Regions from separate parts of the Homo sapiens genome. Here region 2 is linked to region 1. The links come from fine-mapping of genetic effects on gene expression. Tissue or cell type: tibial artery. Region 1 holds a variant in brackets; the other region holds the start of a gene. All regions are shown on one strand. Distances are from middle to middle.

The links. PIP is the estimated chance that this variant, and not a neighbour inherited with it, causes the effect.
Region 2: ENTPD3 starts here. The variant in region 1 is fine-mapped to the expression of ENTPD3 in tibial artery (GTEx, PIP 0.91).

Annotation. Positions count from the first base shown.
Region 1 is chr3:40,476,846-40,479,604 of GRCh38, reverse strand. ZNF619 (zinc finger protein 619) reads right to left here and starts at 2,483. Exons shown (of 5, transcript NM_001145093.4): 1 at 2,248-2,483; 2 at 1,602-1,687. The coding sequence starts at 1,625. RefSeq lists an enhancer at 2,170-2,309. The variant C/T (reference allele first, on the strand shown) is at 1,379.
Region 2 is chr3:40,386,107-40,388,735 of GRCh38, reverse strand. ENTPD3 (ectonucleoside triphosphate diphosphohydrolase 3) reads right to left here and starts at 1,552. Exons shown (of 11, transcript NM_001248.4): 1 at 1,475-1,552; 2 at 639-690. The coding sequence starts at 678. RefSeq lists a silencer at 1,532-1,631.

The sequences.
Region 1 (2,759 bases):
TAAACTTTCTGTGCCTCAGTTGCCCCCATTTGTAAAACTGGGATAACAATAGTAATTATCTGAAAGGACTCTTACAAGAATGGCATTAAGTTATTATCTGTAACGCACGAAGATATCACCTGGCACATGATATCATCTAAATCTCAGCACTTACTACAACCACAGATGAGATTGGGGGAACTTCCTAGAAGATTCTAAATGACAAATGTTCCTCTTAGAGATTGTAGCAAAGACTGACAGGTGTGTGTGTACCCCCTTTCTTTCTTAGTATTGGAATCCTAATTTTACTTGAGGTTGCACTCAACCCGGGCAACCAAGTGGGGCCAATGAAATGCAAGTATAAATATTGTTGGGGACTTATGGGAAGGTTCCTAAAAGAGAGAGGTTCATCTTTTTTTGGGCAGCTCCTCTTCTAGCTGGAATGCACACATGATGGCTAGAGATCAAGCAGCCACCTTGGACAATAAAGTGGCCTAGAGCAGGTGAGACACTGCTAGGATGGTAGAGCAGAAAGACAGAGCCTGAGAGCATAATAGGGGAGCTGCCACACTAGCCCTGTATTGACTCTTGATACTTTTGTATGAGAGAGAAGCCTTTACCTCGTTTAATCCACTGTCATTTGGGGTCCTCTTTGGGGAATCTAATCCTAAGTGATTTCTGTACTTCAGGCAAAGCACCAGGAGAGCACAGCATACCCCCACAGCACACTTCCTGACTTGTAGGAATGAATTTTTGCTGAAGTTCTCGAACAGAAGTGGATGGTCCAATATCCACCAAAAGGACACACACATTGTTTTTAAGTCCTTGGGATGGAGCTTTCTCATTACAAGATACATCCATTACATGATAAACTCAGCTTTCTCATTCCATGATCTAGGACACTGGAGAAAAATCCAGTAAAACCATCATCTACCACCAAGAAAACTGGAGGGAAAAGTCCTCCCAATGCTACATGAATTTGTAGCCAAGAAAGGATATAGACTCTCACAGAGGTTAGACTGACGTCTTCGCATTGAGCTAAAGGCACTGGCTTCAGCTCCAAACTCATCATTCCTCCAAAAATACATCTCCCTCATCAATCTACATTTTCCACATGTTTCCAGTTCTGGCTTCACTGTACCTTAACTGAGTGGTCTGCAGGGTAAACTCCTCCCTTGGAAGTGTCTATTTAACCTCAGAAATGGCTTTTCTTTGTGTACTGTGAACGCAGACTAGCACTCCTCAAATTTTAATCTGCCCTTTAATTTTCCAGATCTTGTAAAAATGTAGATTCTGATTTAGGAGATCTGGGGAGGGGGCCTGACATTTTGCCTAACAAGAGCCCTCTGTAATGCAAAAGCTGCTCATCTCCAGGCCACACTTTCAGTTCTCATGAATG[C/T]AGATTCCCACTTTCTAGGATAATTCATTCCTTCTTTTCCAACCTACCTGACTCTCCCAAATTCACCTACTCTCGTTCGTCAACTCCCCTCGCATACTGTTTTTACATACTTTATTGAAGGATGTAAAACTAAGCATGAGACTGGCCAAGTCAGGCTACTGGGGCTGTACTGACCTTCCATATCTGTTCTGAGTATGGAAAGCTGAAAGAAAGCTCTGCTCACCTGGAACCACACTGTCTGGAGCATGGCTGATGACCCCTGGCTTCATGCACTGCCCTCTAGGTTTGAAAAAGTAAGAACCTGCGGAGCTAAGAGAGAACCACAATGAGACTGATCTGTCTCGTCTCCTACACTTGCCGCCTCTTCCCCTCTGTCTCCTGCCACTAGCATTGCAGATATTCTTGGCACACTAGCTGCTGTCATTCACCCTCTCCACTGATTCATGGGATGTTGCAAATGCTCCCTCTGCATATTCTCCTATAGATCTGCTTGGTGACACTGGAAACTCTAGAAAGAATATCTGTAAAGTAAGAGTCAAGAACTGCAGTGGATTCGTGGCTGTTTTTTAAAAAAAATTCTTGGCCCCACTATGAATGCATTACTAAACAGTTTGTATTGAATGCTTCTAGTGTTCATGGCAAAAACCCAAAACAAGTCTCTGGAGAGAAAGTAGGATATAACGGGGACCCCTAAACAAACCACAGGCTGCAGGACAAAATATAAGTGGTGACCCAGCCCCGGGTGACAAGGGTAAGACGCTTAATGTCCCAGCGGGTGATGCTGACCGAAGACCTAACCGGGATCTGAACGCTCCACCCTGGGAAGCAGGAGACCCTATAGTCACGGCTCCCATCCTCCCCATGAATACCGCGACCCGAGGACATCAGGCCAGCTCCTCGGAGCAGGAAGGTCGAGGGCGTCTCTGAAGACTGGGGACTGGGCCCAGGCTCTGGCGGCGGCGCGGGCCCCTCGGCGACCTCTGCAAGGGCCCAAAGCCTGACCTCCAGAACAGGTAGCCGAGTCAGGGAAGCCCGGGAAACTCAACCCGAGCGCTCGCAAGGTGGCCAAGACGGAAGCATTAGCTGGCCGGCCGTCGGTCCCTACAGCCTCTCTAGGAAGCCGGGAGGCTGGCCCTTCTCTATGGTTCCCACGAAACGAAACTCCAACCCTTCGCTTCCCTTCTCCACAACCGCTCTGCGCCTGGTTTGTTTGTTTTTTAATTTTAATTTTTTCGTGTGTTTTTTGAAACGGGGGTCTCGCTATGTTGCGCAGGCTGTTCTCGAACTCCTGAGCTCAAGCTGTCCGCCCGCCTCGGCCTCCCAAAGTGCTGGGAATACAGGCGTGAGCCACCGCGCCCGGCCGCTCCTGTTTTTCTTTATT
Region 2 (2,629 bases), 91 kb after region 1:
ACATGGTAATTGCAAGGTACCTACCTGAGCTTGGAGAAGCCAGAGCCTTCTGGGCTTCCACATGAGCAACTCCAAAAAGTGCTCTAGAGGCAGGCGGGGCAAGCTTAGAAGTGTGTGTGTGTGTGTGTGTGTGTGTGTGTGTGTGTGTGTCTGTGTGTGTGTGCCTTCCAGTGTGAGAAAATCCTGCACTTGTGCCTGCAGTATCAACCATAACAACACTGACTCACAGTGAGGGGTGGGGGTGTTGTAGGCACTGTGCCAGCAACATTTGGATGGGAATACAGGAAAGATCCAAGTACTGTACAATTGATCACAAAATCAACAATACAGTATTCTAAAGCAAACGTTACACACAGCTAGCTAAGGGAAACCACAAGGGCCAAATTAATGGATTATACAAACCGGAAAAACCATTTAAGTGAAACATGCATGTTAGTCCTTGTTTTGTGTGGCTTTGATGAAAAGCATTACTTTTATTTGAGGAATGCCGGTGTTGAAACCCAGCTGAGTACTGAGTCTCAAACCAATAAAGTTAAACAATCATTTGCAGGGGATATGGATGAAAAACTGTAGGCCGAAGCTGGGGTTCTCTTGCGATTTGGCAAAACCACGCTTGCTACCTGCTGAGAGATACTAACCTGCTTGCTCACATGGTTGGCGGGTCAGCACAGTGAACATCTTTTCTCCTAGCTGCAGGTGAGAGAATACAGGATGTCAGTAAGTCCACCGCCCCGGCCTCACAAGTTTAAAGAACGAGCCCAGGTTAAGACAAAACCCATTTTACTTCCTCCAAATCAAAACCTCATCCCGGGAAAGGTAAGCCGAACCCCAGAACTTCAGAGACAGCCCCAAAGCTGGAGCTTAAATTTCATGTCATCTCCCCAAATGAAAGGAAATGAAAAATGGATTTGCTGAAACTTCAAACTGAAAAGGTTTTCCGAAAAAAGGTCTTTTTCTGCAGATTGTTCCACCTGTACACACACCCAAGAGAGAACAAATCTTCCCCCTATTATTAACATTCACAAAGCTGAGGCGGGGCTTTTTTTCAGAACATGAGCAAGGAAGGTTTTTGTGTGTTCATGGATCGCGAGCCTGGAGCCTCTCTAAAGCCCCGGGAAGGGAGTCTTTAGCTGCTGGCTGGAAATTGCAAAGGGATGTCGGGGCCCTGGGATCCAGCCCCCACCAGGATCTGGGGTCACCTCTCTGGACTGCGTCTCTGCATAGCCGCAGGCATCTAAGCGCCCAGCACATCTGCGGATCCATGCAGGCTGTCGGTAAAGACGCGCCCACCCGTCGTGGGCATGACAGGGACCACCTCCCAGCCGCCCAAGGATTTGGGGCTACCGTGTTTCAGTCTCTTCCTCTGGCCCTCTGAGGAAATCCGATTTTGTTTCTTTGCCTCCCAACTCTCAGTCTCACGCAGCACCCCCGACTCCTTCCTCGGCAGCTCAGGCGCCGGGTCCCCTGATCTTACCTGTGCGGAGCCGATTCGGAGAAGGCGACTAGCGCTGCCGCAGAGGCGGCCCGCGGCCAGCGCTAAGGAGGTGTCAGCTCAGACGCCGGGAGGCGGCGCCGGGTATAGCGGGGCGGGGGCGGGGCGGCCTCGGCCTGGGACCGCCCCCCCCGTCCGTGTCAAGGCCAAGTACCTCTTCACCTTCTTTTCTGATTGCTCTCACCTTCACACCCAGCCCTCGATGGAAGGGGAAGGGAGAGAGAGCGCGCCTCTTGCCAAAAGACCGGCCCTGCCTGCCCAGAGAGCCTTCTGTCCCCCTCCAGGTCGAAGCCAAACAGCACTTCACCTTTCCTCTTTCAGTTCCCTCCACACTCACCTGTACCTGAAGTCGGAGAGGAGGGAGCCAGGCCTTGCCCTGAGAACCCACCGGAGCCTATGTGGGCGAGGGGGAAGGGAGGTGTCTATTATCTGCCTCCTTCTTGCATCTGTGTCAAGACCAAGAACCTTTTGATCTGTCTTCTAGTTACCTCCATTGTCACCCCAACCCTAGGTGGAGGGAAAATGGGGACAAGGCCAGGCAGGGACTGGGCACTCTGTGGGTGTGCATGACCTTATGTGGTCCCCCGGTGGGTGGCTCCTGTGCTCCGTCTCTCCACGGGGTGGAGTAGAGTCAAACACCTGTAATGTTGGGAGTGAGGCCAGTAGGCAGGCTGGCCCCTAGGTCACTTGGGCCTAAAGCACAAAGTATGGCAGGCACATTCCCTTTCACACTTAGCAGAACTGCCTTGGCCATGCCCAGGGCCATTCTTGCTGTTTACTGAGCAATGCTCTGCCCTACCCCATTTAATATGGATGTCATAAGGCCAAAAACTCAAGACAAGTACAGCCCGGAAGAGGCAAAACAGAAAAGATAACAAAAAGGCAGCATGTGGGCTGCCGTGATCCAAACACCCCAGGAGTCTGTCTCAGTGTACAGCAGCAGGCAGCCTCCCGGCTCCTCTGAGTGACCCCAGAGACCCTTGGAGTGATCCCAGCAAGAGGCCTAAGCAGGCCCTGTTTGACCATCCCTCCTTATGGTTCCTGCATGTCTGGAAGGAAGAGCTGAGTCCCTGGCTATACCCTGCCATAGCCTGCTTTCTCCTAGAAATCCACTAATTTTCTGTCCTGTGCAGGTGG